Linked DNA regions of Homo sapiens. The protein of the gene in region 3 interacts with the protein of the main gene of each other region in a pairwise test. Each region holds a gene or a part of one and is shown on either strand. Other genes may lie near its edges. The genes, in order: TMEM9, MS4A3 and CLDN1.

What was found.
Region 1: the proteins of CLDN1 (region 3) and TMEM9 interact in binary tests that used the Homo sapiens proteins (3 or more experiments, as listed by UniProt).
Region 2: the proteins of CLDN1 (region 3) and MS4A3 interact in binary tests that used the Homo sapiens proteins (3 or more experiments, as listed by UniProt).

Annotation. Positions count from the first base shown.
Region 1 is NC_000001.11:201,134,272-201,142,633, reverse strand, and holds the end of TMEM9 (proton-transporting V-type ATPase complex assembly regulator TMEM9 isoform a precursor), read left to right. Parts: intron 1-6,818; coding exon 6,819-6,971; 3' UTR 6,972-7,862; downstream 7,863-8,362. UniProt on the Homo sapiens protein: Transmembrane protein that binds to and facilitates the assembly of lysosomal proton-transporting V-type ATPase (v-ATPase), resulting in enhanced lysosomal acidification and trafficking.
Region 2 is NC_000011.10:60,057,484-60,069,642, reverse strand, and holds part of MS4A3 (membrane-spanning 4-domains subfamily A member 3), read right to left. Parts: intron 8,498-12,159; 5' UTR 8,483-8,497; coding exon 8,327-8,482; intron 8,121-8,326; exon of another isoform or gene 8,089-8,120; intron 7,176-8,088; coding exon 7,038-7,175; intron 5,382-7,037; coding exon 5,325-5,381; intron 2,693-5,324; coding exon 2,531-2,692; intron 70-2,530; coding exon 1-69. UniProt on the Homo sapiens protein: Hematopoietic modulator for the G1-S cell cycle transition. Modulates the level of phosphorylation of cyclin-dependent kinase 2 (CDK2) through its direct binding to cyclin-dependent kinase inhibitor 3 (CDKN3/KAP).
Region 3 is NC_000003.12:190,316,426-190,328,614, reverse strand, and holds the start of CLDN1 (claudin-1), read left to right. Parts: upstream 1-6,168; 5' UTR 6,169-6,408; coding exon 6,409-6,631; intron 6,632-12,189.

The DNA.
Region 1 (8,362 bases), on a different chromosome or scaffold from region 3:
TCGGGAAGCGCCTCAGCTAGGCCTCAGAGAATTAGTTGAAGAAACTGAGAGTCATTTAGCTTAAAGGAAAAGAAAAACAACTAAAGGAGACGCATGATAGCTGCCTTCAGAAGTTTGTAGAAGACAGCTTGGCTTCATCCAGGGACAGAGAGATTTAACACAATATGAGGAGGAGGCTGGGAGTCTTCCTGTAGACAGCGTGGTCTAACTATGGGGTAGGTGGGCTGGGCTCCCTTGCAAGACCATGAGCCAGTTCCTCACCAAAAAGAGGACCCAGGGGCTCAAGTCTAAGTGTGAAGCTGCCTGGGTGATGTGGGTCTGGGCCAGCATGAACAGCGAAGAGAAGGGCAGATCAGGGAGGGAGCCTGGCTGCTCTCGAGGGCTGTGTTGCCCCACCCTGCGCACATGCCTGGACTGCTCCCAGTTTGCCCCCAGCCTCCTGCTGACATGAGTTTGGCCGAAGGTGGAGCAGAGGGGATGAGCCTCGCCCCATTGGAGCTAGGGCCTGGGAGGTGGTGGCACTGGCAGTTGGGTGGTCTGTGTTCAAGAGGAAACCTCGTGTGCCTACCTGGTTATTAATGTAGAGTAATAGCAGCTCTGATAGGGGAGGAGCATCGCTAATAAACACTCAGCGATTAGGGGTAATGTGGTAATTGCAGTCCTGGCTGGGGTAGTAATTGAGAGATGCAGCCCAATGATTTCCGTGGAATGCATGGCTCTGGGGCATGGCCTTGTTATGTCTCCTGCCATCCTAGCCAGGGAGCCAGAGGGAGGGCAGCTTGGGGAGAGCAGCTTGCCGTCCCTGGGTATGAACCCAGGTCTCTCTTACCCCCAGGAGACCTGGAGTGCTCCTCATTTGAAGCCTGTTTGTATGAGGGGGCCTTGGGAGGAAGAAGGGCTAGATTTGGTAACTGTGGCAGGACTGCCTGGGAGGACAGTAGGCTGTGATAGGCTGCAGCACATAGAAGCTGGCGAGCCATGCTCCCTCCTGTAGGGGAAGTTGCGGCCCTGGGATGGACAGGATGACACGCCCTCACCTCTCACCTGAGGTTCTAAAAGCTCATAAAAAGTTGTGTTTAATCTCTTTGATACCCTGACCTAGGGTGCAGCCAACTCTCGCTGGTTGTGGCCTGGGGCAGGTAGATCTCATTGGGTGCCCTTGGCTGGGTAAGGAAGTGCCCCCAGTCCCGTTCTTTGGCATCATCTCTCTATCCCCTCACCTCCTGTGATTCTGTGTGGTCTCCAGGTCACAGATGTCTGTGGTTCAGCAACTCTGCTTTTCTCAGTGTATTCAGAAAACCTGCAGGTGGCACAGTGTTGAGATTTGCACAGACCTTATGTCTGCCCTCGGGGGTTTAAGCCCCAAGACGGCCAAAAGCAGGTAAAGCAGCAGGAAACGTAAAGGCTGGCAGTAAGATCTGGCTTCGTAAGACGGGTGGTCAGCTGAAAAGTCAGGTGCCTTGGGAGGCCCCTCTTTACTAGACAAGGGGTCGGAAAGTTACCCTTCTCGTTGTGTTAGTCTGGGAAGGAAGGCTTCCTGGCAGAGGGGGATTTTCAGTGCCCACTCAGGGTGGTTGGGAGAGTGACCGCTGAACTGCAGGGAGGATGAACAGGGCATTGGGGCTGGACAGAACCCAAGGAGCTTGTCTTTACAGAGACTGGGGGCCCTAGTCCTGGACGACGAGGGATAATCTACTGCCCCTCTCAGTGCACAGAGGAAAGGGATGTGGGGAAACATGGGGCTGGGGGGCAGGCATTCAGCTGAGCGGCAGCAGCACCTAGGCTGTAGCCATGTCTCTGGGTTTCACCCCAAGAGGAACAAAGTCAGGACATGGCCTCTTGGGTTCCTTGAAAGTTCGCCTAGGCCTGTACAACTCGATGACTTTAGAAGGAAAATTCTGTCTAGGCTCCAGGAGCTTTCAGGCCCTACGCCCCAGAAGTCTGGGACCCAGTTAGGGGTGAGATCTGGAGGTCAGGGCATTTTTTCAGGGTTAGGGACCCCTTGGTTCCTTCTCCCCAATTCCTGTGACCAGGAGCTCTCCTGCCCAGGGGGTAAAGAACTGGAAGAGGAAGAGGAGGCCTCCCCCTCAGCCTCAGCCCCGTTCATGGAGGGAGATGAAAGCTTGTCATGTTCCCTTTGAAAGCGCTGGCAGAGCCTCAGTAGGCCCTGATTGCTGGGCGCTGCCTCCCCTGGGATTCCAGCAGCATTAGGCATAATCCCTGGGCTCAGACGTCCTTTGAAAGGAGGAAGCAAGCATGTTTGCTGGGGCAGAAACGGCAAACAGAGCTGTTTTAGATGTGCAGGTTGGGCCCTCTTTGAAGAGAGACACATGGTTTCTCTGAGGCTGGGGATGTCGCTGCTCACAGCATGGGCCCAAGCTCTGGAGAGGTCTTCAAAGTGCTCACCCTGCTGGGGCAGTGGGTAGAGTTCTGGGCCCCCTTTGGGAGAGAGTATACAGGGAAATCAAGGAAAGGTGATGATGATGATGGGAACTGGAACATGCAGGCACCGGGGAGAAGACTCGGGCCACTGAGGAGCAGTCTCCCCTCCTGTCTGCACATGGGTGGCAGCTGTGTTCTGAGGACCCCAGCCCTGGGAAGCTGACAGTGAAACACGGAACAGACACACTGATGAGGGCAATCCAGTCGGCCTCCTCCCCTGAGGGCAGAATAGAAAGATGTGCGGTTCAACAGACGCTTCTAGAGCCTCCAGTGGGGCAGCACAGCATTGTGGTTAATCACAGTCCTGGGAGGGGCCGAGCCCTGCCATTTACTATCCTTGGTGCTAACCTCCTGGTTTAGTTTTCTAAGTCTGGAATACACATAATCATGTTTACCTCAGCATAACTGTTGCGATCGTGTGTATGGAAGCTTTACAAGTGTTTGCTCGTCCTTAAGAATGCGCTATTTCAATCAGGTGTTAATACTTAAGTAGCATCATGATTGCTGGAGGGAAGCCTGAGGGGCAGCGTGCACAAGGGCCTGAGTGAGGATCACCGCAGGTAGACAGAGGATGCATGGACCAGTGTGGCCAGAGGCTGGGCTGGGGGGTAAGGGGGGAGGTGAGGCTGGGAGTGCCCTTGAATGTCAGGCCCAGCAGGGTTTTATTTGTGAGCAGGTGGGTCCCAGCTGGGGTTTTTGGGCAGGGAAACAGCATGAGTTGGTGTGTCATAGGAAGGTGGCCCTAGCCGCAGCGTGCAGGGGTCAGGGAGAGCCTCGCAGCAGAGGTGCAGTGGGACTCAGCAACAGCAGCAAGGACTTGGGTCAAACATGGAAAACTCAGAGAGGCTGTATAGTCCTCTTGCTGAAGGGCTTTGCACTAGGACCATGCTTTGCTGAGTGGCTGGTAAGTGATGAGACCACCTGGTCATGCTCCTGTGCCTGGGATTGGGGAGGAGGGAGGAGGAGCAGCCAGAGAGAGGAGAGCCGCCTGAGGTGGGGTTCTCACTCTCCCTGTCTCCTTGTCATCAGGCTTTGGCCAAGTCCAGTGCCAGCTCAGAACCAGTGCTTCTGGGCAGACTGAAGAGGGTTTCATCTGGGACGGCCTGAAGGGCTCAGGGCTAGTTTGATCAGCTGGGGCTTATCCACACAGTTACTTGGGTCCTTCCAGTGTGGAGAAGAGGGCCTCGCTTGATGTCCTGAGCATTGGTTCCTTTAGAAGTGCTCTGTTCTTGCTCTAGCTGTGGGGAAATATACCAGCCTGTCTCTTTGGTTGTCCATGCTGGCTCCCTCTTAGGAGAAACCAGCCAAAGAAGGATCCAGCTGGGTCCTAGGATAAGAGATATACGTACATGGGTTCAAATTCCGACTTGGCCACTAAACAGCCATGCAGCCTTGGGCAGCAAGATGATTCATCTTTCAGAGCCTCAGTTTCTGCAGCTACAATAGGGGATGGTTTTACCCATTTGCCAGTGTTGTAAGCCTGGGAATAATCTGTGTAAAGTGCCTAGCAGAGCGCCTGGCACATAGTGGCACTTGTCATAGTCACACTGGTCTGGTCCCCCTGGGGACCTCCTGGGAATCCATCCATGTCCAAGCTCTTTTTCTGATTGGGAGGGGCTCCACCCGCCTCCCCTCCTAACTGCCCTTCTGCTCCCGAGTTAACCGGAGGCCCAGCCTCAGAGGGAGAGGGGAGGAACTGGTGGCATTTCTCCCACTTCCACCCACCATACTTGCTGCAGAGCAAGCAAGGATGAGGCCCCACTCTGGGCTGTCTCTGAAACAGATGTGGAGTCTTTAATACCTTTTAATCAGACTATTAGCGATGGAAACTCAGCCTCTCAGTGGCAGCTTTCCCCCACTTAGGAGCTGTTTGTTAAGACTTTACATGAAGGGAAAACAAATGATACTGTGGTAATGTGGTGAATTTCAGCATGTTCCCTTAATGCTGTGCTCTGGGCTCTCCCTGGCTTCCCCTTCTCAAGACGCTCCCCTGAGATACAGAGCAGTGGAAGGAGGGCAGGGCTAAAGCTGCCCCACCCTTCCAAGCGTAGCACCCCACCCCACACACACACTGGAGCCCTGTCATGAGAAAGATGGTCCCAGAAAGGATGAGATTGGGAATGGAAAGAAGAAGAGAAGGCAATCCAGCCCCCAGAGCCAAGTCCCGGTGGGCCAATAGCTTCCCAGATGGGTCTTTAGTGCCCACCTCATGTAGACGGCCACACTGAGGCAGGACTGGGTGGAGGCTTGGTCTTAGCACTGTGGCCAGCTCAGTCAGCACAGTGAACAGGGAAGGCATGGAACTGGAAGGAGGGGCAGCAGCCATGGCAGTTTTCACAGGCTTTCTCCTGGCAGCCAGCCGCCAGCCTTACTGCCTAGTGGCTTCCAGAGCTAGGCTCTGATATTAGTCATCGCTCCTAGGGAAGAAAGAAACCAAACATTTCTTGAGCCCTAGCTCTGTGACAGCCAGGATAGTAAGTGCTTTATATGTGTGTTATTTAACTTTGCCATACCCATCTACTAATCTTAAACCAGTGTATTTCAAGCAAGCCATTAGGTCATGAAATGAATTCTGTGAGTCATGACCAGGATTTTTAAAAAAATGGAATGGAACAGAGCAAAGAATATCAGAATGCATTACACTAAGTATTGTTTTATGAAACTTCTTTTCACTCTGTGTGTGTGTGTGTGTGTGTGTGTGTGTGTGTGTGTGTGTGTGTTAGATAATTTGGTAACTATAATTCCTAATGACCGTATAGCAGAAAAAAGTCTCAATGACTACATTTACTACATTAAATTGAAGCTTGGAGAAATAAAGTAACTTGTTCAGGGACACATAGCCTCATAAGTGACTGAGGCCATGTCTCCTTCCCAGCCCCCGCTGTGGATCTGTAGTTCCACCTGGGACGCGAGCCTAGGGGAGGCTGAGGCTGGAAGGGGCAGGTGATCCCCAGCCCAGGAACAGAACCCAGGGGTCCTAATTCCAAGCTCAGTATGCCCCCTGCCTGACATGGCCACACGTGCCTTTCAGGCGTTGCCTGAGCCTCACCTAGCCTGGCACAGGAAGCCTTCCTCAGGACCTGGGCGGGAGGCTCCCAGAAGGCAGTGTCCATCTCTAACGCAGCTTAGAGAGGAGCACTCACAAGATGAAGTCCTCAGAGCTCTGAGAGGATGATGATGAACCCTCTCCCAGCCTCCTCACTGCCAGCTTGTTCTCTGTCCACCCTACCCTCACCTCACCACCCCCCTTCGCCCCAGCGTAGCAGCTGCATGGTGACAGAAGCCGTGCCAGCTTGGGGCATTAGAAGCAAAGTTGCATTTACTGGGCGGCTCTGGGCTTAGAGAAGTGCACTAATCCCTTAAGAGATGTGTGGCAGGAGATGAGAGGCAGGGAAAGCTAGGGAGGAAATCCCCACGGGGGTGTGGGCCTGGCCCTCAGCTCTAATTCTCTCCAAAGATCAGGTTCAGGTCCTGCAGGAAATGCAGAGGCTCCGGAGCTTCAGAGGCAGAGAAGTGGTAATTAGGGGAGGATGCTTTTGACGGCAGCAACAGTTCTGAAAGCAAAGGGGAAGGGGATCAGCAGAGTCAGATAGGGAGGAAGCTGAGCTGTCCTCAGCTATCAAAGGAGGGAATGGGCCAGAGAGGGCTCTGCAAAGGGAATGCTGGGGCGGCTCTGAATTTCCATCCCTGTCAGACTCCCTGAGTGATGTCACATCCCTCTTTCCCAGGGAAACTAAGATCCCATGGATCTGGATCTATGCAGACTCCTCAGTAGGCCCCCTCCCATCTGGAGCAGATGTGTTGCCATCTCAGGGTAGCCAGACCCTAGCCCCTGGGCCTTCTTCCTGTCCCCTGGGCAATGGCGTGGAGGGCAGGGGAGTTCTCTAGCCTAGTACTAGCCCTGGGGGCACCTCGGTGCATTGCTGAAACAACAGATGTCATCAAGTCCTCTGCCTAAGTGAGGTCTTGAAGCCTATACTTAGCATCCTTCTTGAGAGTTAGAAATAGTGGAATGGGGCATGGTGAGGGGTGGGTTCAGGCTGGGAACCTCCCTTGAGCTAGCTGTGTGGCAGTAACTGGAGCCCCAGCAGAACCTACTCTTCCTGGAGTGCTTCCTTTCCCAGGCCCCAGGGAGGGGCAGGGGCCCCATCCTGCAGATGCTACAGACACTAAGGCTTCCAGCAGACCTGGCACACTGTGTTCAGCTCTGCAGATGACAAGGCAAGGTCCTCAGCCTGCAGCACTTGGGGAGGCCCAGCCTCCCAGTCTGGGGAAGGTAAGGCTTTGGGGTTCGTTCTTTCCATGTCAGACTTTCAGGATCCAAGACCCTTCTGGCTTACCGTGCCAGATCTTCTCTTTTTTTCTTCCCACTACAGGATGCTCGCTCTATGGCAGCAGCTGCTGCATCCCTCGGGGGACCCCGAGCAAACACAGTCCTGGAGCGTGTGGAAGGTGCCCAGCAGCGGTGGAAGCTGCAGGTGCAGGAGCAGCGGAAGACAGTCTTCGATCGGCACAAGATGCTCAGCTAGATGGGCTGGTGTGGTTGGGTCAAGGCCCCAACACCATGGCTGCCAGCTTCCAGGCTGGACAAAGCAGGGGGCTACTTCTCCCTTCCCTCGGTTCCAGTCTTCCCTTTAAAAGCCTGTGGCATTTTTCCTCCTTCTCCCTAACTTTAGAAATGTTGTACTTGGCTATTTTGATTAGGGAAGAGGGATGTGGTCTCTGATCTCTGTTGTCTTCTTGGGTCTTTGGGGTTGAAGGGAGGGGGAAGGCAGGCCAGAAGGGAATGGAGACATTCGAGGCGGCCTCAGGAGTGGATGCGATCTGTCTCTCCTGGCTCCACTCTTGCCGCCTTCCAGCTCTGAGTCTTGGGAATGTTGTTACCCTTGGAAGATAAAGCTGGGTCTTCAGGAACTCAGTGTCTGGGAGGAAAGCATGGCCCAGCATTCAGCATGTGTTCCTTTCTGCAGTGGTTCTTATCACCACCTCCCTCCCAGCCCCAGCGCCTCAGCCCCAGCCCCAGCTCCAGCCCTGAGGACAGCTCTGATGGGAGAGCTGGGCCCCCTGAGCCCACTGGGTCTTCAGGGTGCACTGGAAGCTGGTGTTCGCTGTCCCCTGTGCACTTCTCGCACTGGGGCATGGAGTGCCCATGCATACTCTGCTGCCGGTCCCCTCACCTGCACTTGAGGGGTCTGGGCAGTCCCTCCTCTCCCCAGTGTCCACAGTCACTGAGCCAGACGGTCGGTTGGAACATGAGACTCGAGGCTGAGCGTGGATCTGAACACCACAGCCCCTGTACTTGGGTTGCCTCTTGTCCCTGAACTTCGTTGTACCAGTGCATGGAGAGAAAATTTTGTCCTCTTGTCTTAGAGTTGTGTGTAAATCAAGGAAGCCATCATTAAATTGTTTTATTTCTCTCACTTTCTGGTTTTTAAGAGATTTAGGGAACTAGGAATTTTTCACAAGTGACCTGGTAAATGTAGTATCCCAGAGGGGACAGAGAGCATTGCGTTTTGCTAGGTCCAGACAGGCAGAGCCTTGGGAAGTCCAGGCGGCCGTGGCAGAGCCAGCCACAGTGCAATCAGGCCAAGGCCACGGCTTGCTGGAAGTCCTCCTCACCTGATTAGGAAAGAGGTGGGTAGGCTGGGGCAAGGAGCACAGGGTGAACTGGCCCTTGGGAGTTATCCTGAGATTTTACTTCATGTTTATGGGCAGTTCCTCTGAAACTGAACAGTGCGTGATTCATCCTAATATCCTACAGACACAGTAAATAGCGCTCCCTGCAAAACCTGTAAGTATCCCCAAATGAAAACCAACAGGTATTTGGAGAGGGGTGGGTGGGGGCAGCTAGAAAACGAGCTGCCCCATACAGAAGGAAATGCCAGCAGCTTCAACAGGGACATCCAGGGGAGCCCGGCAC
Region 2 (12,159 bases), on a different chromosome or scaffold from region 3:
CATGGCTATGGTAGAGATGGTTACGCATAATTCCAGCAAGGTGAGAATCAGCAGTAGAGACACCATGCCCTAGGGGATATGATGCCTTATATCAAACCCAGTGGCAACATCCAGAGGTAAAAAAAAAAATGTCAGCAGGAAACCAGACTACAACATCTCCCTCCCGTAAAGTGGAACAAAGTGAACCATAAATTAAAGACAGAGACACATATAACACTGTAGAAGAGATAGTATCTCAATCTAAAAGCATGAAAACATTTTCTCTAATGAGAAAGATGTGTCACATTTCTATGTCAACGCATGTGAAGTAGCTACAGGGGGAAGAAGCTGTAGAAACAAAATTCTGACATTATCACTAACATCTTCCAATCTGAATAGTAGTAAACTAAGGAGAGGAGTAGGCAGTTTAGAAAAATGAACAAAAATGGCCCTTCCACAATTTCATTAGCACTTCATAGGGGTTTAGGCATTTACATTATCCCTAGAAACTAAAACACTGAGCTAATATAAACAAAAAATAAAATTGTTGGGCTAATGATTCTACTATTATTACTGAGGCACCTAGAAGCAACCAATACAATATATCCCTGGAGGAAAAATACCTCCAAATTCACAGAAAAATCAGGCTCCGACAAATATAAATTTAGATCATTAAAAATGTAATAAAGAAAATGAGAACACAAACTTCCATAAGTAGTGTCTCACCCATAGGTGGGAACTGAACAATGAGAACACTTGGACGCAAGGCGGGGAACATCACACACCAGGGCCTGTCGTGGGGTGGGGGGCTGGGGGAGGGATAGCATTAACAGAAATACCTAATGTAAATGACATGTTAATAGATGCAGCAAACAAACACGACACATGTATACATATGTAACAAACCTGAACGTTGTGCACGTGTACCCTAGAACTTCAAGTATAATAATAATAATAAAAAGAAAACAGGAAGCTTAGGAGTGAGTCTGTAATTAACAGTTCATAGATCACTGGGATGAAATGGATAATTCCAAAGGAAAATATTAATTTCTAAGTAGAGTTCAGAAGAGGTAGAGTACCTGAACACAAATTTTTAAAAAATTGGTAAGGTTGGCTGGGCGCGGTGGCTCATGCCTGTAATCCCAGCACTTTGGGAGGCAGAGGCGGGCGGATCACGAGGTCAGGAGATCGAGACCATCCTGGCTAACACAGTGAAACCCCGTCTCTACTAAAAATACAAAAAAAAAAAAAAAACAATTAGCCGGGCGTGGTGGCGGGCGCCTGTAGTCCCAGCTACTCGGGAGGCTGAGGCAGGAGAATGGCGTGAACCCAGGAGGCGGAGCTTGCAGTGAGCCGAGATGGCGCCACTGCACTCCAGCCTGGGTGACAGAGCAAGACTCCGTCTCAAAAAAAAAAAAAAAAAAAGGTAAGGTTATTAAAGAGCTTTCCTTTGAAAACACCATGCTAATTTCATTCTAAAGCGCAGTCCTTCAAAACTTCAAGTCATTATTTGAACATTCCAGATTGCAGAGAAAGTTGTAAATCTCTCAAGTTTGTTTTATTAAGCAAGGAGATATGAAATGAAACTTTATTTTTTTATTTTTTTATTTTTTGAGACAGTTTCACTCTTTTTGCCCAGGCTGGAGTGCAATGGCGCAATCTCGGCTCACCGCAACCTCCGCCTCCCGGGTTCAAGTGATTCTCCTGCCTCAGCCTCCCAAGTAGCTGGGATTACAGGCGCCTGCCACCATGCCCGGCTAATTTTTTTTTTTGTATTTTTAGTAGAGACGGGGTTTCACCATGTTGGCCAGGGTGGTCTCGATCTCTCGACCTCGTGATCCGCCTGCCTCGGCCTCCCAAAGTTCTGGGATTACAGGCGTGAGCCACCGCGCCCGGTGAAATGAAACTTAAAAAAAAATCTCTCTGGGGAGTGTAATAGTAGTAGTTGTGGTAATAATAATTGTGTATCATGATATGCTAAGCCTTGTTTTAATTGCTTATCATATGTTAACTTTTTAAATACTCACATAAATCCTATGAGACGGGTACTATTGTTATCCTCATTTCAAAAATGAGAAAATTCAAGGGATTATCTAATTTGCCCTTCATTATAAAGCAAATAGGCGACAGACCCAAGATTCAAATTATGGGATGGGCGCGGTGGCTCACGCCCCTTATCCCAGCACTTTGGGAGGCCGAGGCGGGCGGGTCACGAGGTCAGGAGATCAAGACCATCCTGGTTAACACGGTAAAACCCCGTCTCTACTAAAAAAATACAAAAAATTAGCTGGGCATGGTGGTGGCCGCCTGTAGTCCCAGCTACTCGGGAGGCTGAGGCAGGAGAATGCTGTGAACCCAGGAGGGCGGAGCTTGCAGTGAGCCGAGATCACTCCACTGTACTCCAGCCTGGGCGACAGAGCGAGACTCCGTCTCAAAAAAAAAAAAAAAAAAGATTCAAATTATGGCACATTGGTACCTGATATATTATTTTTCTGTACATCCTGGATTGTTTGAAATATTTTATACTTATACATATTTTTCAGAAACATACATTTGATATGGAGCCCATGTAATTGCATAGGTCCGGTGACTCTGATGAAGAGTGACAACTCCTTAATGACTGGATATTAACTGCTATATTTAGTGAGAGAAAAGCAGTCCCCACTAGTGCAATTGTAGCACTGGCAATGTTCATTCCAAAACTGTTCTGTATCTAAAAAAGAATAAGAATTTTCAATTAATATATGCAGCACGTACTTCATTCCTTTGGCAACAATTCATTGAAACAAACATTGATTGAATATTGTTTACACACCCACTGATATCCTAGATGCGAGGCTAACATCAATGACCAAAGAAAGATTTCTGTCCCCCACCCTCCATGGAGCTTATATTCTAGCAATAAAAACAAAGAAAAAAGTAAACATACTATAGGTAAATTACATAATATTTTTGAAAGTGATTAAGTACTAGGGGCTAACAGAATGGGATAAGGAGAATCTGGGAATCCAAAGAGAGGAGTGGGGGTTCATGATATTAAATAGAAATGACACTGGGGAGAGGCATGAAAGAGCTGTGGGTGCCAGCCAGGAGGATATCTGGGGGAATATCCTTGAAATTAGGGAAACACTCAAAATCCTGAGGCCAGAATCTTCTGGGGCAGCAAAGGGGTCAAGGGCGTTGGAGGCACGTAGTCAATACTAGGAAATGAAGAAGAAGGAAAGTTAACAGAGAGCCAAATCATGTGGGGCTCTGCAGATCATGAAAAGGAACTTGTTTCTAACTCTAAGAAAAATACAAAGCCAATGAAGGATTTGGAGCAAATAAATGATATACTTGGCTTTATGGTTTCAAGGGATCACTGTTTCTAGCAAGGCAAAGAGAAGTTCAACGATAAAAGCTAGAAGCCCAATTAGGAGAGACAAGGTGGATTGGATGAAATGTCATCAATAGAAAGATAAGAAAAGGTCAAAACTGGATATAATAATAGCTTGAAAGTAGAGCCAACATTATTTGCTGATAAATAGGATTCAGGATTGTGAAAGAAAGAAGACTCTTGGTTATTCTAAGGTGTTTGGTCTGGGAATCTGGAAGGATGACATTCCCATCAGCTGACATGAGGAGAAGGTTTGAGGAAGAAGACTGGGAGTTGAGCTTTGGATCTTTACATGCCAGTCTGATGATCAGGAGAGACACCTGGGCTGGAAATACTTATTTCAGGGTTGTGGGCATACAGATATTACTTGAAGTCATAAGAATGTGTGAGATCACAGAAGAAGTACGTATAGATTGAGAAGAGCAGGTGGCAAAGAATTCAGCTCTGGGGCACCAGAACATTAAAAGGTCAGAGACAAGGAGAGGAACCAGGAAAGGAGACTGAGATGGAGAAAGCAAAAGATGGGAGGAAAACCAGCCAAGCAATGTATGCTGGAAGCCAAGTGAGGAAATTCCTGGAAGGAGGAGTGGGCGACTAACTATGCTAAATGCTACTCATAGCTTAAGTTAGATGAGGAACAAGAGTTGACCGTTGTTTTAGCAGGGTGGAAGTTTTCAGTGATCTTAAAGACAGCAGTTACAGAAGGATAGTAGGGAATAAAATAAAGTCTTATTGAAGTGGGTTTGATTCAAACCGGTAGATGGAAATCAGAGAAAGAACATGATGATTCCTTTGAAGGAGTTTAGCTACAGAAGGAAAATACAAATTGTGCCTGTCCCTAGCAGGGAGAAATAATGTCAAGGTTTTCTTGTTTTGTTTTGTTTTGTTTTGTTTTTAAGTTGAGAACAGTAACTGGATGTTTACATGCTGATTAGAGATGGGGCAAGGTAACTCACGCCTGTAACCCCAGCCTTTTGGGAGGCTGAGGCAGGAGGACTGCTTGAGCCCAAGATTTTGAGACCAGCCTGGGCAACATGGCAAGATCCTGTCTCTACAAAAAAAAAAAAAAAAAAGACAAAAATTAGCCAGGGATGGTGGCACACACCTGTAGTCCCAGCTATGTGAGAGGCTGAGGTGGGAGGATTGCATGAGCCCTGGAAGGTGGAGGCTGTAGTGAGCTGTGACCACACCACTGCACTCCCATCTGGGTGACAGAGTGAGACTCGAAAAATATATATATAGCAGAGAGACAAAAATTAAAGTGATGCACTTGTGTGGGGAAAAAAAGAATGGAATCTTATACTCAAGTAGGGAGATCAGCTTTAAAGAAAATCACAAAATTTTCCTATGGTAAGAGGCTAGAAGAAAAAAATACATTGGTACAGATCTAGTCCATTAGTAGTGGAGGTCTGAAAATTCCCTTCTAATGGCTTCAGTTTTCTCAGAAGAGACAGAAAAATCATCAGCAGAGAGTAAGGATGACAGAAGTGGGATTGGTGTTTGAGGATACAATAAAATGGTAAAATAGCTATCCATGGAGGAGGGAAAGTGAATGAATGGAGTAGGAAAGTGGAGTATCAGTGGCTACGTGACTCACTAAGAACACATCATAGAGACTTAGCAGTTGTTTAGAATAGAAGTTTGGACTTTCAGTTGTCAAACTAGTTAGTGGTGGGAGTTCTTACTTCCAAATAATTAGAATTGGTCAAACTTGACAACACATAAAAATCAAGAAGACTTTTTCTAAGCTTCAAGTTCACCAATATTAAGAGCAAGCATCCCAGGAATGCATCCTCACAATGTATGTGATCTGCTGACCTACCATCTGAACACGTTAAGAAAACTAATATTTTGTGCATTAAATGATACTCAGTGTCTCAGTTGTATTCATGGACACTTACTGTCCTACTGTTTATGAATAATATATTTCTACTCCTCTGATCATAGAAAAAGAGGAAGTGCTACTTACCCATGTTCTTGTGGGTTTTATCCCTGCTACAACAGACAAGGTTCCTGAACTACAGAACTGTTTGAAAATAGGAAGGAAAACAGATAAAGGAATATTAAGTCTCAACCATTTTCTTCTTGGTCCTCCCTCAATTAGCAGATATCCAGCAATAGTCATACAAACCTCCCTTTTAAATTCACATCCTAGGACACAGAATTGTACTTGATGCTGCTCACTTTATTTATTTATTTATTTATTTATTTATTTATTTAGTCTTTCCATGCAATTAGTTTTATTCATTTTATTTTTTAAATTTTTTTTATTTCCATACGTTATTGGGGAACAGGTGGTGTTTGGTTACATGGATAAGTTCTTTAGTGGTAATTTGTGAGATTTTGGTGCACCCATCACCCAAACAGTATACACTGCACACAATTTGTAGCCTTTTATCCCTCACCTCCTTCCCACCTTTCCCCCTGAGTCCCCAAAGTCCATTGTGTCATTCTTATGCCTTTGCATCCTCATAGCTTAGCTCCCGCTTATAAGTGAGAACATATGATGTTTGATTTTCCACTCCTGAGTTACTTCACTTAGGATAATGGCTTATGCAAGGATTTAATGACGAAGAAGCCAAAAACAAATGCAATAAAATCAAAGATAAATAGCTGGGACCTAATTAAACTAAGGAGCTTTTGCACGGCAAAAGGAACAGTCAGCAGAGTAAACAGACAACCCATAGAGTGGGAGAAAATCTTCACAATCTATACATCTAACAAAGGACTAATATCCAGAATCTGCAATGAACCCAAACAAATCACCAAGAAATAAACAAACAATCCCATCAAAAAATGGGCTAAGGACATGAATAGACAATTCTCAAAAGAAGATATACAAATGGCCAACAAACATATCATTCACTTTTTAAAAATGAACCATCAGGGAAGTAATAAATAATCAAAACTGAATGAATACATTTTAAAATCACCCCTATTTCTTCTGATTGAATGTTGACCCAGATAATGGAAATGATTCTTCTGACTTTCAGACAGTAATCAGCAGACAAATTTCTTAACTCTCAAGCCAGGACTCTCTGCTGTACCACAAGGCAATTCATCAATACCCATTTTTCATTCAATTTTTTAAGTATCTATAAATGTAACATATAGTTATATATAAGATAATTTTTAGGACTTCATTTGTACTTGGCAAATGTGGTTTCTCTTAATCAGAAAGAGATTTTTGGCCTGGCATCAGGGCTCATGCCTGGCAATTCCAGCATTTTGGGAGGCCAAGCTGGGAGGACCACTTGTGGTCAGGAGTTCGAGACCATCCTGGAAAACATGGTGAATCCCTGTCTCTACTAAAAATACAAAAACAAAAATTAGGTGGGCATGGTGGTGCATGCCTGTAATCCCAGCCACTCAGGAGACTGAGGCAAGAGAATCACTTGAACTGGGGAGGCAGAGGGTTTCAGTGGGCAGAGATCATGCCACTGCACTCCAGCCTGGATGGCAGATCGAGACTTTGTCTCAAAAAATAAATTAATTAAGTAATTAATTAAATTAAAAAATAAAAAAGAGTTTATCGTCTCTAATTGTTTATATCAAGAATTGCAAATCAAAACCACAGCATGCAACCTTCCAATAACCTACAAACAATATTTTTGTCATCAAACACATCTCCAGCAGTGGTATCTAAGAAATAACATATAGCCAGGGGAGTACGAATACTCACAAACACAGCACCCCAAATCGGGTAGCCTGTGTAGAAGGTGAAGAAAAAGAAGTGCTTTTGGAAGTGGTATGGGTATTGCAAGGAACCCAGAAAGACACCCAAAGCCAGAATCATTGCTGCATTCAGGATCTGGATGGCCTGAAAGAAGAAAGGGGAAAAAGGCGTAACAGTCATATACTAAAGTGGACACTGAAAACAGGCCATTTTAATTTTCCTCAGAAAGGAGATGTCGGTGCTTGAAATGGTTAAAGTGTCAAGCCTAAATTAACAGAACGAGAGCTTATCTGAAAGAGTTTTTTATTCCACGCTATCCACACCAATTCCAGTGGCAGCATTTTGTCTTCACCTCTCCCCCACATTTCTGTTCATTCTCACGAACTCCTCTCAGAAAGTGGCAGGACAGTAAAACAGACATGATTGGTAAGGTAGATGGAGTCAAAGTCTCTTCCCAGCATGCTTTTGCATCATAATATGATGAAGGCAGACAGAGGATAAGCCATATCCTACTCAGCCTTTCTCTCAACCCAATTTTTAACCCTTCTCTCAACCCAATTTTTAAATTTAAAATATAGAATATAAGCTTCATAGAGCTCAGCCTCCTCAAATGGCTGGTCAAAAGGCACAAAACAAAAAATGAAGGGTCTTGGAATCTGTTCTCCAAGGTTTGATGTTTTCTACCATGAGAAAATGCCTTTGCATTTCTGCTCCCCAGATCTATAAGAAGTCCCTGTCTTTTCTCCAATCATTATTAAGTCAGTGATAAATAACTCAGAATTTCCTCCTTCTCAGCATAAGCAAGGTTTTCTACATGATACAGTTGGCTCTTGAACAACATTGGGGTTTGGAATGCCCACCCTTTCATGGTGGTAAATCCACGTAAAACTTATGACTTCCCAAAAACTTAACTACTAATAGCCTACTGTTGACCAGAAGTCTTACTATTAATATAAACAGTCGATTATCACATATTTTGTATGTGACATATTATATACAATAAGCTAGAGAAACTAAAAACGTTAAGGAAATCATAAGAAAGAGAAAATGTATTTACTATTCATTAAGTGGAAGTAGATTATCATAAAGGTCTTCATCCTCATCCTCTTCACGTTGAATAGACTGAGGAAGAAGAGGGAGAGCAGGGGTTGTTCTTGCTGTCTCGGGATGGCAAACAGAGGTGGAAGAAATCCACATGTAAGGGAATCCTCACAGTTCAAACGCACGTTATTCACAGGTCAACTGTATTTATTTTCTTCCCTCTTAAATCAGTGTTTAAACTAAGGCTGACTTACCCCAAGAACTTGTAATTTTGCTTTCTGATAATCTGGTGATCCATCTATGGGCTGGTAGACAGAAGTATTCAGCTCTTCTGGTCCCGCCTCACTGCCTGGGGTACCATGGGCAGAGGCTGACCCCAGCTCTGCATTATCAACTTCGTGGGAGGCCATTGGGGTTGTTTATGGCTGTGATAGAAAAGAAATCCAAAGCCTTCATGCTTTCCCTTTTTCCACTAGCTACTAAAATTTTGAGTGTTACAGAAGGGTTCAATTCTGTCCATACATTACAATGACTCTCCACAAATGGGACACCAGGGCAGAGTAACAGAGTTTGTACAATATTCAATTCTGTCTTGCCTTGGAGTAGTAGACATCATCGGGTCATTGTAGTAGGCCTTGGTGCTTCACTTAACTTTGGAATGGTAAAGAGCAATTTCTTTCTCATTTTGCATGCACTGATATATAGTCCCTGCCTTTCTTCAAGTCAGTCAAGGGCAACCAGACATATGGTTTCTCTGAGCAGTGGTCTCTTTATAAGAATAATGGCTTTAGTCACATTCCAGTAATAATAGTAGGTGTCATTTATTTAGTACTTATTACTATATGCCAAGCACTGTCTGGATGCTGTGAATGTATTAATATACTTAATCCTGTTATAATATTATTATTATTCCCGTTTCACAGATGAAAAAAATTGAGGTATAGAGAGACCGAGAAACTTACCCAAACTCATATGGCTTATAAATCATTTCAGATTTTACTAAAAACATTCTACTCTAAGGTCCAATATTTTTCAAATCACCACATTATATAGTACTATATAGAAGACGTCTTTCTGAGTACCAACATAGCATGGTAGAGTTTAAGCACTATGGAAGATCCAAATTCAAATCCAGATTTCATCATTTACTAGTTGCATGACCTAGTAATGGGAACCTCAGTTTTCAGAGTTTAAGCACTATGGAAGATTCCAATTCAAATCCAGATTTCATCACTTACTAGTTGCATGACCTTGTAGTGGGAACCTCAGTTTTCACTTCTGTAAAAATGGGAATAATTTTAATTTTATATTAACATTGCGAGAGTTGACTTTGATAATGTACGGAATTCTCAACCTGTGAACAGGTGGTATCAGCTTTTAACTTATACTCTGCCTTCTAACAAAAAGGACTTCAAGTTTGTATATATATAAGGGTCACAAAACAACCACCTCAATCATTACAGCTGAAAAATATGTATCACTAAAGTACACACAGAATGCTTACATTGGACTTCTGAATGTTGGGCAAGATAACTTCCTAATTCATAGTACCCTCCTACACAAAATAGTTGTAAAATGCTTATATGCTTTTATAACTGATGAGGGAGATGGCATGAGATGAACCATAAACAAACACATAAAATGATGCTGTATTCTGCCATAACTATCGATTGGGTTAAGAATAAGATCTTAATATAAATCATTCTACCATAAAACACATGCACGTGAATGTTCATTGCAGCACTATTCACAATAGCAAAGACATAGAATCAACCTAAATGTCCATCATTTGTAGACTGGATGAAGAAAATGTGGTACATACACACTGTGGAATACTATGCAGCCATAAAAAGGAATGAGATCATGTCTTTTGCAGGAACATGGATGAAGTAGAAGCCATTATCCTTAGAAAGCTAATACAGGAACAGAAAACCAAATACCACATATTCTCACTTATAAGTGGGAGCTAAATGCTAAGAACAAATGGACACATAGAGGGGAACAAAACAACTGGAGATTATCAGAGAGAGGAGGGAGGAGATCGGGAAAAATAACTATTGAGTACTAGGCTTAGTACCTGGGTGACAATCTGCACAACACACCCCTGTGGCACGAATTTACCTATATAACGAACCTGTACATGTACCCGTAAACCTAAAATAAAAGCTTTTTATTGAAAAAGAAAGTATAGTATCTTAATTTCTACTCTTTGTTACAAATTATATACTAGATCCATTTTTCTAATAACTTAATTTTTTGTCAAGCTAAATACACGCCACTTTCAGGATGTTTACCTTTCTGATACTCTACTCTGGGGGTGTGTATGACTCATTTAAGTGTGATGACAAATTTACTAAGCATTGACTAAAAGTGAGAGTCAAGCCATGTTTTATTATTACACTGGGAATTGCTATAAAAATTCATAAAATTCTCTACCAATACTGATAAAACATTTATTATAAATGTCATAAAATTTTGCTACCAATACTCTTCATCAAAGTTTCCTACCAATATTGATTTTCATGCCAAGATTAAATTACATTCTGTATGTATTTAAGTATGGATAAATGTGAAATGACAAGGAACCCTTAACCCCCCGTGTTCAACACTGTACAGAACCCAAGAGCGAGGGAAGATCAATAAAGCTTAAAGCAAACTCTATGTGAATAAGTTCCTAACGTAATTATCTGCAAAAAGTATAAATAAGAATAGCCAAAAAGCCAAGACTTCAAATTTATCCACTGGGAAATTTGTGTGTATTTTGGATTAAATATCTAATGAACTAAGATGCATGCAATACGGAGAATGTTGCTGCTTTATGACCAGATAATCTCTCGCCTACGTCTCCTGCCTCACCCCTCACCCATCCCTATCTCAAAACTCCATCCAGCCTTATTTTCTTGATTTGTCTTCCTTCAGAAGTTCTAAACCCTCAAATGTCTTCAATCCTCTGTGCTATCCCCCATTCCTGAAAGACAAGTCCCCTCAAGCTTCACCTGGATAATTTCTGCTCTCCTTCCAGACTGAATTTTTTTTTTTTTTTTTTTTTTTTTTTTTTTTTTTTGAGTTGGAGCTTTGCTCTGTCTCCCAGGCTGGAGTGCAGAGGCCCGATCTCAGCTCACTGCAACCTCCGCCTCCTGGGCTCAAGCTATGATCCTGCCTCAGCCTCCCAAGTAGCTGGGATTACAGGCGTGCACCACCACACCCAGCTAATTTTTGTACTTTTAGTAGAGATGGGGTTTTACCATGTTGGCCAGGCTGGTCTCGAACTCTTGACCTAGGTGATCCACCCACCTCAGCCTCCCAAAGTGCTGGGATTACAGGCGTGAATCAATGCGCCCGGCCCTTCCAGACTGATTTTCAGCCCACATGTCATACTTCCAGGATGCTGTTTTTAGTCCTGGCCAACTCTGGAAGAAGCATGCACCCCTTTGGGTTGCTCTCAAAATTTCCTCAACTTTCCTTCTCATACCACTTAATCAGCCTGAGCTTTAATTGCCTGGATACTTGTCTGTTACCTCGTTGTCTACTCATCACTGCAACTCCAGTGCCTAGCTCAGAATCATCAGATGGCAAGCACTCAGTTAACACACATGTTCAATCAGTAACCAGACTTTTGGTCCAGCCCAAGGTAGCCATCCTGATAAATGATGATGGAAAATACCTCTGCAAGCACTGGAGCCTCTCATCTCAAGAAACTCCAAGAGCATTTCTGAAGAGAGCAAATATCTAACCATATTATTTAACTTGATTTGTTTCAAATAATCAAAATAATCAGGGAGAATTTTCAGCCTCCAGGTGAAACAAACTATGTTTTCTAAAATTTGGTTAAATCAGTTATTTATTTTTAAAAAAATCAGAGAAATGGTCCGGGTGCAGTGGCTCATGCCTGTAATCCCAGCACTTTGGGAGGCAGAGGCGGGAGGATCTCAAGGTCAGGAGATTGAGATCATCCTTGCTAACATGGTGAAACCCTGTTTCTACTAAAAACACATAAAATTAGCTGGTTGTGACAGCACGCGCCTGTAATCCCAGCTACTCAGGAGGCTGAGGCAGGAGAATTGTTTGAACCCATGAGGCGGAGTTT
Region 3 (12,189 bases):
ATCAAGTCACAGCCAGCCTACCACACTCTATTCCTTGCTAATGGAATACTTACCCAGGTTCTCACAGTACTGCTATCATTTATCAAACACTTTCCAAGTTCCAGATACAGGATTTAGCATTATCCATAAGTGACTTCAATCAATTTTATTTACTCCTCACAACACTGTGAGATACACATATTTCTTTTCTTTTACAGATGGAGAAAATGAGGCATAGAAAGATTAATTAACTTGCCTAACATCATGTCTAATGGAGAGAGAAAGTAGTATCATATCCTAGATTCTGTCTTATCCCAAAAATCAAGGTATTAAAAATTAAGATATTTTGTGTGTGTGTGACAGGTCTCACTCTGTCACCCAGGCAGGAGTGCAGTGTCATGATCACAGCTCACTATAGCCTCCATCTCTCGAGCCCAAGTGATTCTCCTACCTCAGCCTCCCGAGTTGCTGGGACTATAGGTGCATGCCACCCATGTCTAGCTATTTTTTTTTTTTTGTAGAGATGGAATCTTACTATTTTGTTCAGGCTAGTCTCGAGCTCCTGCAATCAAGTAATTCTCTCACCTTGGCCTCCCAAGCTGTTAGGATTATAGGGATGAGCCACCACACCTGTCCAAAAAATTATGATCTTCATCGCATTGCTACTTATTTCTGCTTTGATATGTTCTCTAAACACACACAAAAAAAACAAGATCTACTTGTGAGTCAAAATTGTTTTATTCACTAAAGTGTTCCTAGTGCCTTGGATTATAATAAAGATTAGAGAGTCTTCCTCTATCAGTCCATCCATCTGTTCACTAATTCCGTTAGTTACCCCTCACTTACTGAGTACTTCCTATTCACTCTGATATGACTCTGATTTGGTGGCCTGATGAGGATGCAGTCTTTGGGTATCACTGTACTAGGTAGTTGTAACTTTGGAGAGATACAAAGGAGGTAACTGATAAATATTTGCTTCAGGTGTAGGATAGCGTACCACATAAGCTTTCTGGATCAAGAGCCAGAACAACTGAGTTTGGAGGCCAACTCTGCTTTTTGCTAGCTGTGTAACTTGGGATAAACTACTTTACTTTTTCACACCTCACTTTTCTCATCTGTGTTGATAGTTATCTAATTCAGTGGCTTTTTTGAGCACTAAGTAAGTTTATACAACAAAGCCCTTAGAATCTAAATGATCAGTAAGTGTTAGTGAGTGTGATGGTTGATTTTATGTGTCCACTTGGCTAGGCTATGGTGTCCACATGTTAGGTTAATACCAGCCCAGATGTGGCTGTATTCTTTAGTTGTGATTAACATTTAAATCAGTAGACTGTGAATAAAGTGCATTACCCTCCGTAATTTGATGGGCTTAATTCAATCAAGGAAATACGGAGGTTTCCCAGAAGAGCAGGAATTCTGAAACCTAAAAAATTTCAGACTCTAGACTGTGAAGTCAACTCTTATTCAAGTCTTCCGCCTGCTGGAACACTTTACGAATGTTGAATTTGGCAGCTCCCACAACTGAATGAGCCAATTTCTTATAATAAATCTCTGTCTCTCCCTTCCTCTCTCTCTCTCTCCTCTCTCTCCACAGACACACAAATACACACATGTAGTCTATTCTTTGGAGAACTCCCACTAATAAAGCTAGTGTCATATTAAAGAGATTACAAGTAAAATATTAGCAATTTGACCTTGATTCTTGTTCAAATCAGTTGAATGTTTCTAGTATCTCTAAGATAAAAAGGATCTTCCCCAAATGACACAAGTGAAAGGATAAAAGGAACAGTCATTCAGCACCTTGTTTCAAGGTAACCTTTTATGACTGAAACAGAAGGTTTTATGGCTAAAATTTCATCCCCTCCCAAATTCTCTGAAGAGATGGACCTGCTAGGCTAGGAGTTAAGGGGGCAATCTATGGGGGAAGTTTTATGTCCCTGAAAACAAGGGAGGCACTTGATAATAAAAATATCAAACTGAGGTTTTGTTTGTTTTTCTCTCATTACCCTCTACAGATTCTTGCAGATCTGTGGGAGTCATCTGATATCACATCGCCATTCTCCCTCTTGGCCAACCCCTCCTCAGAAGAAGCCCTCAGGCATTAGTCCTAACCAGGGAAACTATCCAGAGCTAGGAGGGAAAACATCGCAAGGCTTGGAGAGGGGACCTAGAAATCTCACTGAAAGCTCATACCCCTGCCATTGCTGCCTTCTCTTTTTCTGAACACAACATTGTGTCTTCTTTCTAGAGAAACTGCGTATCTTTTCACTACGATTTAACTATGACATTCAGTGGGACTGTAACAGAATCGAAGCATGAAAGAGTCCTCCTGAACAAACATGAGGATCATTTGCAAATGGCAGGATCAGAAATGGAACGTATCTGATCTGCTTGAAATAATAAGTACTGTTTCATGTATGCTTGCTCTATACCAGCTACTATTTTAAATAATGTGCATGTCTGAACTTGTTTAATGTTCATAACAGCACTAGGGTTTGAGCCATTCAAAAGAAGAAAAAATGTGAGTCACAAGGATGTTATGCAAATTTCTCAAGGTTACTTTAAGTGGCAGTAATGGGATTCAAAAGGTTTGTGCTTTTAACCACTACCCCTCACTACCCTCTCAAAGACTCCAAGGAGCTTCAAAGGGCCATTTTAAAAGGTTGTGTCAGTCACACAGCAATGCAGTTTTAGTAACCTGAATGTTTTAATACTAAAATTCATGTTAAATTTATACAATATTTGTACTCTGATCCTTTTCTCAAGCCCTAAATAATTACACAGCAGATTGCTTACTTAGTAATGTGTTCATTCGTTCTGCTTTTACCACTTAAGAAGCTCTGAAAAGTCAACATTAACATATATTAACACTAAGCAAAAAAATTAACATCCCAATGGCTTTCATACTGTCATCATTAACCATTTCTGAGAATCTGCCATGCTGCCTCTTAGAGGCTTGGTTCTTTGTCTACACTCTCTTCTGACACTCACAGTCTTACCTTTGCTTCTGTCTTTTATGTGTATATCTCTTCTACTTATTATTGGTTCTCAAGATCATGGCTAAGCCCAAGCATCAGTCGCACAAGCACATGGAATAAACCAGTACGCTATTTGCTGTTTTTACACATCTCTTCCTCCTCAACAGCAACAACTTTTTGCCACATGATTCTAAATCCCCAGGGTATAAAACCTCAGTGGGCTGCAACAGATATTAAGAAGAGACAGTCACAGAGTAAAATATCTTGCCACTGCCTGGAGCAAGAAACACATGATAAGTATGTCTAAGCTCTTCCAAAGAAGAAAAAAAAAATTGTCCTCGATTGATTTGGGTCACACAGAGAAATACTGCAGGAGAGCAGTCAAAGGCATGGACACGAGCGTCAAATTATATAGTTTGGAATTCCAGCGCTGCCATATTCAATATGAACTTGGATAAGCAGCCTGACCTCTCTGTGTCTGTTACCTGCACGTAGAGATAGCATATAAAACTCTGACCTCAACACTTGATGAAAATATACAGCAACAAGTGCCAGCTGTCATTACTTAGAGTCATAAAGCTTTAGACTTGGGTGACTTTCAGAAATTAACCCCATCCCTTTTATTGGTAGGGAAACTGAGGAAGAAAAGAAGTAATTTGTCTGAGGGTACATAGCAGATTTTACTACTCAACAGGCTAGGACACTTACCATACCATTGCCAGCCTTTCTAGAGCCTTCTTGGTCTCAGTGCTGCCTTTACTGTTTATGTTTCAGATATGAAAGGCCAGTATTTGGAAGCTGTTTTTCCTCTTAAGTTGATAGATTTATGCTGAGCCATTATCTCACCTGTCCTCTGCACTTAAGCTAGGAGCAGAAAACTAGACAGGATTAAGGATGCCTAGAGATGGGCCTGAATCACAGTGAAGCAAACAGCATTCACCTCAGCCTCACAAACATGGTTGTGGGTAGTGAAGTAATCAGCCTCGCACAGACCTGAAATACAAAACAAAAACACGGGACCCTGCTGACCACAGAACTCATCCCTCCGATTCCCCGCTAATTGTAGGTTGATAGAAACCAGTTGTAATGCAGAGTAAAAGGGCCTGTGCACAAATATATTTACTGAACGCAGAAAATGTCATTTATTTGTTTATTTATTTATTTATTTATTTGTTGAGATGGGGTCTTGGTCTGTTGCCCAGGCTGGAGTGCAGTGGCACGATCTGGGCTCACTGCCACCTCCGCCTCCCGGGTTCAAGCAATTCTCCTACCTCAGCCTCCCAAGTAGCTGGAATTACAGGCGCCCACCACCATGCCCGGCTAATTTTCATATTGTTAGTAGAGACGGGGTTTCACCATGTTGGCCAGGCTGATCTCGAACTCCTGATCTCAAGTGATCCGCCTGCCTCAGCCTCCCAAAGTGTTGGGATTACAGGCGTGAGCCACTGCGCCTGGCCTGAGCCACCGTGCCCGGGTGTTTAATAATACTTTTAATTCTTAAATGTTTGGAACAAAAAAAAGAAGAAAATGAGATTATATGATTCACATGGTACTGCTCTAGTCCTGCAGCAAATTCCAGTGCCTTCTCTGATCAGGGAATTTTTACAAAATCAAATGTGATTGATACATCTTCATCCACACTGACAGGCACCCACAGAACATCCACTGAGACCTAGACAGTAGTACTGACTGCAGGCCCTAACCCTGGGATACAACACGAACATGGTCTTGTCCTAAACAGCTGATAGGAGAAAGACAGTATTCACTGTGTTAATCTCAGTCCAAATTAATTGTCTTCATCTAGCTCCTGTCTTACATTCTTCATTGCTTGTCCCTAAATCCTAGCACGGCCAAGTCCTTTAGTTTTAAGCCTACATGAAAGGCATCCAGGGAGAGCCAGGTGGAAATGAAGGTGGTGGGGCTTGGCCTTTCTTCCCATTCCCACCTTGAGAATTTGCACCTTTCCTTCTCTGTCACCAACTAGCAGTTGCCATGGTATATAAGGGTATATCTTATTTTATCCTTAATATGTTTATTTCTGCTTCCAAGATGCTTCTGTTTTTACTAAAACCATAGAAGCTTCCCCTCCCACCACACTCGCACCACACACAAAAAGCAGTTGGAAAAACATTTCAATGATTCCTAACCACAACAGCACTTCTGACTAACTACAAAGAAGGAAGCTTTGGAGAAACATAGAGGGAAACTACAGTCCCAGCGAGACCGAAACCGGAGGGGTGAGATAGCCAGTCACAGTAAAAGCTGGAACCAGAGCCCAGACTTCCTCAACTCCAGCCCAGTCCTTTTGCCACTGGGGAAACGCTGTTTACATGTCCTCACCTGCGACGAACAACATTTGATAACTCACAAAATTAACACCTTTCAGGGAGAGCGGGGCACTGGCCAGGTCCCTCTGATAATGAATTGCTGCTCTAAGACATAACTGCTGTGGGGAGGAGGTTGGTGTTTGGCGGGGAAGGGCTGCTAGCCTGCAGTTTCATAAGGACAATAATACATCAAAAAGGACAATCATAGATCAAAGGGGATATTTTGGGTCAACTTGATATGTAGTGGAAAGCAGATTGGGAGGGGAGCCAAGTACTGGATATGCTCCGTGCGTGAGTGTGTCTGTGTGTGTGTGTGTGTGTGTGTGTAAATCATGTTGCTCTCTGGGTCTGTTTCCCAATCTGTAGAGTGTAAAAGTCTCTGAGGCTCCTTGCAGAGACAAGTGATGGAACGACCTTGACAGAAGAGAGCAGAGAGAGGAAAGAAGGGGGAGGAAGCCAAGCAAAGGAGAGAGAAATGGTGTGATGGGGGAGGAGACGCGGAGTTGGGTAGAAATGCCTTTTAATAAGATATTGGGAAAAAAGTATTAAACCTAAAACTGCAGCTCTTGAAGGATCATTTTTTCATCTTTGTGTTAGGATTTACAAGTACAGTGCATAGTAATTTTTGGATAATTGGAGTGAATGAATGAAAAGCGTGAAACGCCTTACAGGAGCGAGAAGATCCACGAGAGAAAGCGAGCAGGGACGCAGCTCTGGTGCCTGGTCCTGCCGGGTGGTCCCCACGCCGCCAGCCGCGCGTTCCCCAACCGGGCGCTCCCGGCGCCCTCTCGGTGAGCCGCCCTGAAACCGCCAGGGGGCGCTCCCCGGCTGCCGGGGCTGAGGCGGGCGGAGCTGCTTTAAATCGCGGCGCCCAGCGGTTCTGCGTCTCAGTTCCCGAGCCTGGGAGCAACCGCAGCTTCTAGTATCCAGACTCCAGCGCCGCCCCGGGCGCGGACCCCAACCCCGACCCAGAGCTTCTCCAGCGGCGGCGCAGCGAGCAGGGCTCCCCGCCTTAACTTCCTCCGCGGGGCCCAGCCACCTTCGGGAGTCCGGGTTGCCCACCTGCAAACTCTCCGCCTTCTGCACCTGCCACCCCTGAGCCAGCGCGGGCGCCCGAGCGAGTCATGGCCAACGCGGGGCTGCAGCTGTTGGGCTTCATTCTCGCCTTCCTGGGATGGATCGGCGCCATCGTCAGCACTGCCCTGCCCCAGTGGAGGATTTACTCCTATGCCGGCGACAACATCGTGACCGCCCAGGCCATGTACGAGGGGCTGTGGATGTCCTGCGTGTCGCAGAGCACCGGGCAGATCCAGTGCAAAGTCTTTGACTCCTTGCTGAATCTGAGCAGTGAGTGCACCCCCACCTCACAGCGGCCGTCCAGAGGCCCCAGTCCCCCTGCAGCTCCCTTATGGGCTCATTCTGTTGTGTGATTCCATGGTTATCAGTCTTCAGTTGATCAAGTCTTCTGATCATGTGCTCTGTCATAAGGAAATGAAGAGAATCCTGGTTTGAGGAAAGCGACGCCCAGGCATAAGCTCTAGTTTTGCCTCTAACTCCCTGGGTGACACTTCTGCCACTCTAGGTGTGGCTTCATCCTAAATTCCTATGCTGGTGGTTCGAGTTGAGGGAGTGAAGGCCAAACTTGAACTTGAGCTCTTAGACCTCTCCTAGGCATTCCGAGATTTGGGGTAAATTGAGGATTGGTAGAGTTCAGACAAGAAAATGGGATGACTGAAAAAGTTTGAAGCCTGGTAACTTCTCAAGTGTGCACGCTTAAATAAATAATCCTCAAGTATTAGATATAACTTTTTAACCTTTAATATGATTTTTTCATAGTAAAAGTTACATTCCTACTGGAAATGTCCTATCTAAGTGTCTTCTGCTTATGCTTGAGGTTGATTCTTTTAATTTATAAGATCCAGTTAGTGCAGGGAGGCCCCTTGCAAGACTCTTTGGAGAAGCTGCTTGAGATTCCCCCGAAGTTTTAATTTTCAGACCCAAGGTCTTCTGTAGAGGCTGACGGTGTAGTGCTATCTTGGAAAGAGAAGGTTGGTGGCAGGTGGGGAAAGGCTGACAAGAAAGGTTCTAAATAACCTGCGCAACATAATACAAAGAAAAAAGTAAAGGCACTGAAGGGAAATGCAGCAAAATAGTCATAGCTGATGAAATCAGAGGTCAGCTGGGAGTGGAAGGCAGTGAGAGAGAAAGAAGAGGTGGGTCTTCCTTAGGTTTCCATCTTCCACAAAGAAATTTCTGTGTAATGGATGTTCAGTGACCCCCTGTAAAACTGGAAAGGATTGTATAGAGAGACATATTTCTAAGGATGGTGGGAAGAAGGATAATAGGATAATTGTTTTACTTTGTTTTTTAAATTAAAGGTTTCGAGTTCCTTGTCCGAAAAGTCATTAAATTCCCATTTACTTAGATAATAATGATTCACGGCTGGAGTATCTTCCTTGAGAAATCACATTAATTGTCTTATATCATGTGTCTGTTATGCCCTTTAACTCACTTGAAGAAAAGATCCCTTAGTCTTTGCCTAGATGAACGTGACTGCCCACTGGCCCCCATTGCATGCTAAGGGTGAAAAGTGTTGGCATTGTTCAAGTTTACTTAACTTGTTTTGTCTACCTCCTATCAAGGGACAACTTTTAATAGTGTATATCAAAAGCCATATAGTTTAGAGTTATTAAACCTGTTCCAAATCTGTTTGAACACCTTGAATACCTGTGGCATTTGCTCAGTCAATGTGCATGGTTGTTTTGAGTGTTATTATTTCAGCTTTTGAAGGTTCTCATATCAGGACTTCTTTACACCAAAACCAATCCATAAGTTTAGTAATTATGTGTTGCTCATTGCCCTCAGGGGTTATATTTGTACTTATAAAATGAAAAATTTGGTAATAATTATTGAATTTCTCCATGGAAAGATAAATATATTTAAGGAAACGGTGTCAGGCATTTTAGGTACCACGTTAAGGAATTGGCAGGTGGAGGTTTCTAAGGACAATTCCAGAGAGGTCTCACTGTCAGTTTTATTCCTCTGATCAAAATAGTTCCTTTTCAACATCTTTAAATAGGTTTTCTTTTAACTTCCTGAAATGACCAAATGAAATCAGATTGATCTATGTTGTAAATACTCAAATGGATCATCCTTACACATGATAATGTGTTAAAATGTTTTACTTTCATTTTTTGGTTAATGTAGTTATTACAGTTTTTAAAACTAGGGTGAAAGGACTAAATACCTACCCCCCCACACACACTTTAGAGATGTCTTCCTATTTTTTTAAAACTCCAGATCAGAATCCACTTTTATTTTACTTAAAGCCATAGTTTATCCAAGGTGTGGCTTAGGCCTTTCTCTCAAAACCCATTCTCAGAAGAGGGACCCTTGACTCACAGGTGTTCTCCTCTCACCTGCCGTGACTCACGGGATGCTTTTGGATAGAACCCAGGAAACCTTACTTCATTTCTCTGCCTGAGCAGTGGTGTTTACGCCCACCAGCTGTAGAGATCTGGGATGGTGATTCATTGGCTGGTTTTGGTACAGTTTTGTTACATGTAGAGATGAAAAGGGTTATGTGTGTATATTTAAGCAGTATCACTCAGAAAAAAGCTGCATTTCATTAAGTGTGTTTAGGTGAAAAGCTTAGCTGTGGGTTTCCCGAAATTGTACCTTGCCGTCTTTCCCAGTAGAGCACACTTGTCTTCCCGGCCAGATGCAGGGCTTTAGCACGGGAAGTATTAAAATCTGTTGTTTCCCTGCTTTATGTAGGGTAGGTCATAAAAAGCATATGACCTTCATAAAGTATCTGAAGGAATACAGTGTGCTAATAGTGTATACAGTAAATACAAAATGAGATAGAGCAAGGCTTCTTCTTTTAGGTAGTTCTTGCCAAGCGGTTTATGAAAATGTAACTGAGGCACTTCCTGGGGAAACAAATGTCACATTGTGTATTGTAGTTTTATAATGGCTGATACAATTTCCATTTCATCCAAAGTATGTGATTTTATTGACCCTGGGGATTCTTGTAGCTGAAAGTTGGAATATACAAAAAGTGCCAGATACAGTTGTAGTAGACTTTTCTTGATTCACCTGTACCTCTCGCCTTGTTTTCATCTAATTCTCAAACTTTTAGGAAGCTCGCGCCAATTTTATGTGCTTGCTTAAATGCTTCTTCTTACTTGACTTTAATAGCTAGAGCTGTCCAAAGATTGAGTTGCTGTAGGAGGCTGCATGGTGGGAGGTGTGCAAGCAGAGAATAAATAAGCATTTTGAAGGAATGTTGTAGGGAAGATCCAAGCACCAGACAAATGGGAGGTTAGGCTAGACTCTCTCTCAATCTCACCGAACCCTGAGATTCTGTAATTTGTTTATAAGCTCCTCTAGCCTGTTTAACTTGCTTTGCATGAATCCACATGTGTGTAGGTGTGCTTAATGAGTATTGGTGGCTGTGAGCTTCCCCAGCACTCTCACCATGATGTCAGGCTCAATCAGAGAGACAAAATCACTGACGTGGACAGTCTTTGAAGCCTAAGTGGAGAGGAGGGCACCTATTTATGCTTCTCCAGATGCGTTGTGCCTGCTGAACCGAGGGTACTCGAAGGGCCATTGGTGTTCAGATATACTTCATAAATTAGTTCTGACTCTTAGAATAATGGAAGTTGAAGCAAAAATCCAGGCTTGAGATCAGAAATTCTCTGTTCTTACTGTGGTTTGGCACTAAGTAGCCAAGTGTATAATGGTGAGCCACTTGATCTCCCTGGTTTCAAGTAGTTACCCCACTTATAAAATAGGGCAGAGTGGGAGGAATGGGGAGATGAATCTATGATTCGTTTATCCATTCAACAGATGCAAGCTAGGCCCTATTCTTGCTGCTAAGGATGGTGCAGCTAAGATGAGTTCTAAGATTCCTTCCAGTGCCAGAATTCTTTGTTATTACTTCAGTGATTGAAGGGGAAGAGGCAAGTCACATAGCTTAGGTTTCCTTAATTGGAGTGATTAAGGAAATATAATGGAGGTAATATAGAAGCATCAACTTAATTCTGAGAAAATTTCTTGAAGAAACACACAAACAAGAAAGGTAGCAAAACTTCTGAGGACATCCTGAAAAGTGGTACATCCTGCCTCATCCAGGATCATTTTCACTCCTGATTTTGCTTATGTTCTGAGTTCACATCTGGTGACCATCACCTCATGCACCAATAAGAGGGAAATGCTAATGATTAGGACTTTTATGAAACTTTGAACTTCCGTAAAAGTAAAAGATTTAATATGGAGAAAAGCCAGGGGAGTACACTTCTGTGACTGTCTGTGTTGAGCTCATTTAATTGCAGGGGAGAAGGAAGCACAATATTTTTGTTCTAGTCACCCAATCATCAGTTCATTTATTCACTTAATACTTATTAAGCAACTACAGATGCAAAGGGAGAATTGGAATCTGCAGTCAACATTTGAACAACACAGGTTTGAACAGCAAGTGTCCACTTATAGGTGGATTTCTTTCAACCAATACCGATCAAGAATACAGTATCTGAGAGTCCAAAGCCTGCATGTAGGGAGGGTTGACTTTCTGTATACAAGGCTTCCACAGGATCAACTGTAGGACTTGAGCATGTGCAGATTTAGTTACCTGTGGGTGGTCCTGGAACCAATCACCCTTATATACCAAGAGATGACTATATTTTGTTTATGATATATAGAACCTAAGGTAATATGGCTAGAAAATAGCATAAACAATGTCTGGTATTGATAGTAGATTCTACTACTTGTGTAGCAAGACTTTCAAGCTTTAGAAAAATTACATATATGTCTGTCTTTCTACACATTTGTTGATTAACCTAAGTGTAGTAGATCAGTAACTTCCAACTCACTTCTTGTCTTATAAGTAGAGATCTTTGTAAGTATTTACTTTTAATTCTACTTTCAGGTGGAAAATGATGAGAACTCCTTAGGGGGTCTTTAATCTCAAGATTGTCAGTCTAGCTAAATATAATTAAAAGACTGCCTTCTGTGTTTACTGCTGAATAATGATGAGAAAAAATAGTGTAATTTTTTTAATGTTTGCTAACCAGGTTCTCCATAGACAACTTTAGTCAGTGGTCATAATATTGTAGATTTAGCTGCAAATTTAAGAGGTGAGAAAAGGAATATGTTTGTTCCTAGGTTTGTTCTAATCAGACCAATTCAAAGTTAATATTGCAAGGCTATACAACATCTATCTCATCCAAATTGTTGTTTTATAGCTTTCAAACATCCTTTTTAACTTCTCTGCTCTGCCACTCATCATTCCATTAGGGCAAAAAGAAACAAAACTTAAGCTTTGAAGCTCATTAGATACATACTTTAAAAAATAGATCAAAATAAGCAAAAAGTACAATTTGTATTATCTGCATGAGTTTCTAGTTATCAGTGACCTAAGCTAAGTCTGGCTTTTAGTAGCAAGATTTTAGCATACCAGGCTCTCAAGGGAGGTATTTCTCAGTATTATTTCAAAAATTAAGCTAAACACAAGAGAATAAGTATTTTTACCTATCATATTGGTACAGATTTTTAAAGGATAAAGACATGTTCTAATTTAAATTTATTGAAATTTGATAAATCCATGTGACTTTTCAAGTACTGTGCTTGGTGCTTTAGATGGAAATAGGAATAAATATCTGACTCAAATCATCCAGGAGTTCATGATTACATACTTTACAAATCTGATTTAAAACACTTCTATGATGTGAAGGTATTCATCTGTTTCCGGCTTAAAACTGTGCAATTTAGATTTGATCTGCACATAAAACACTTGTAACTTGTAACACAATAGTTGCTTACTTTGACTGGTAACCTATCATTACCTACGCCTTGCTTGTGAGTTTTCGTGCTGTTTTAATTCTCAGCTTTTTGTGCGTGAC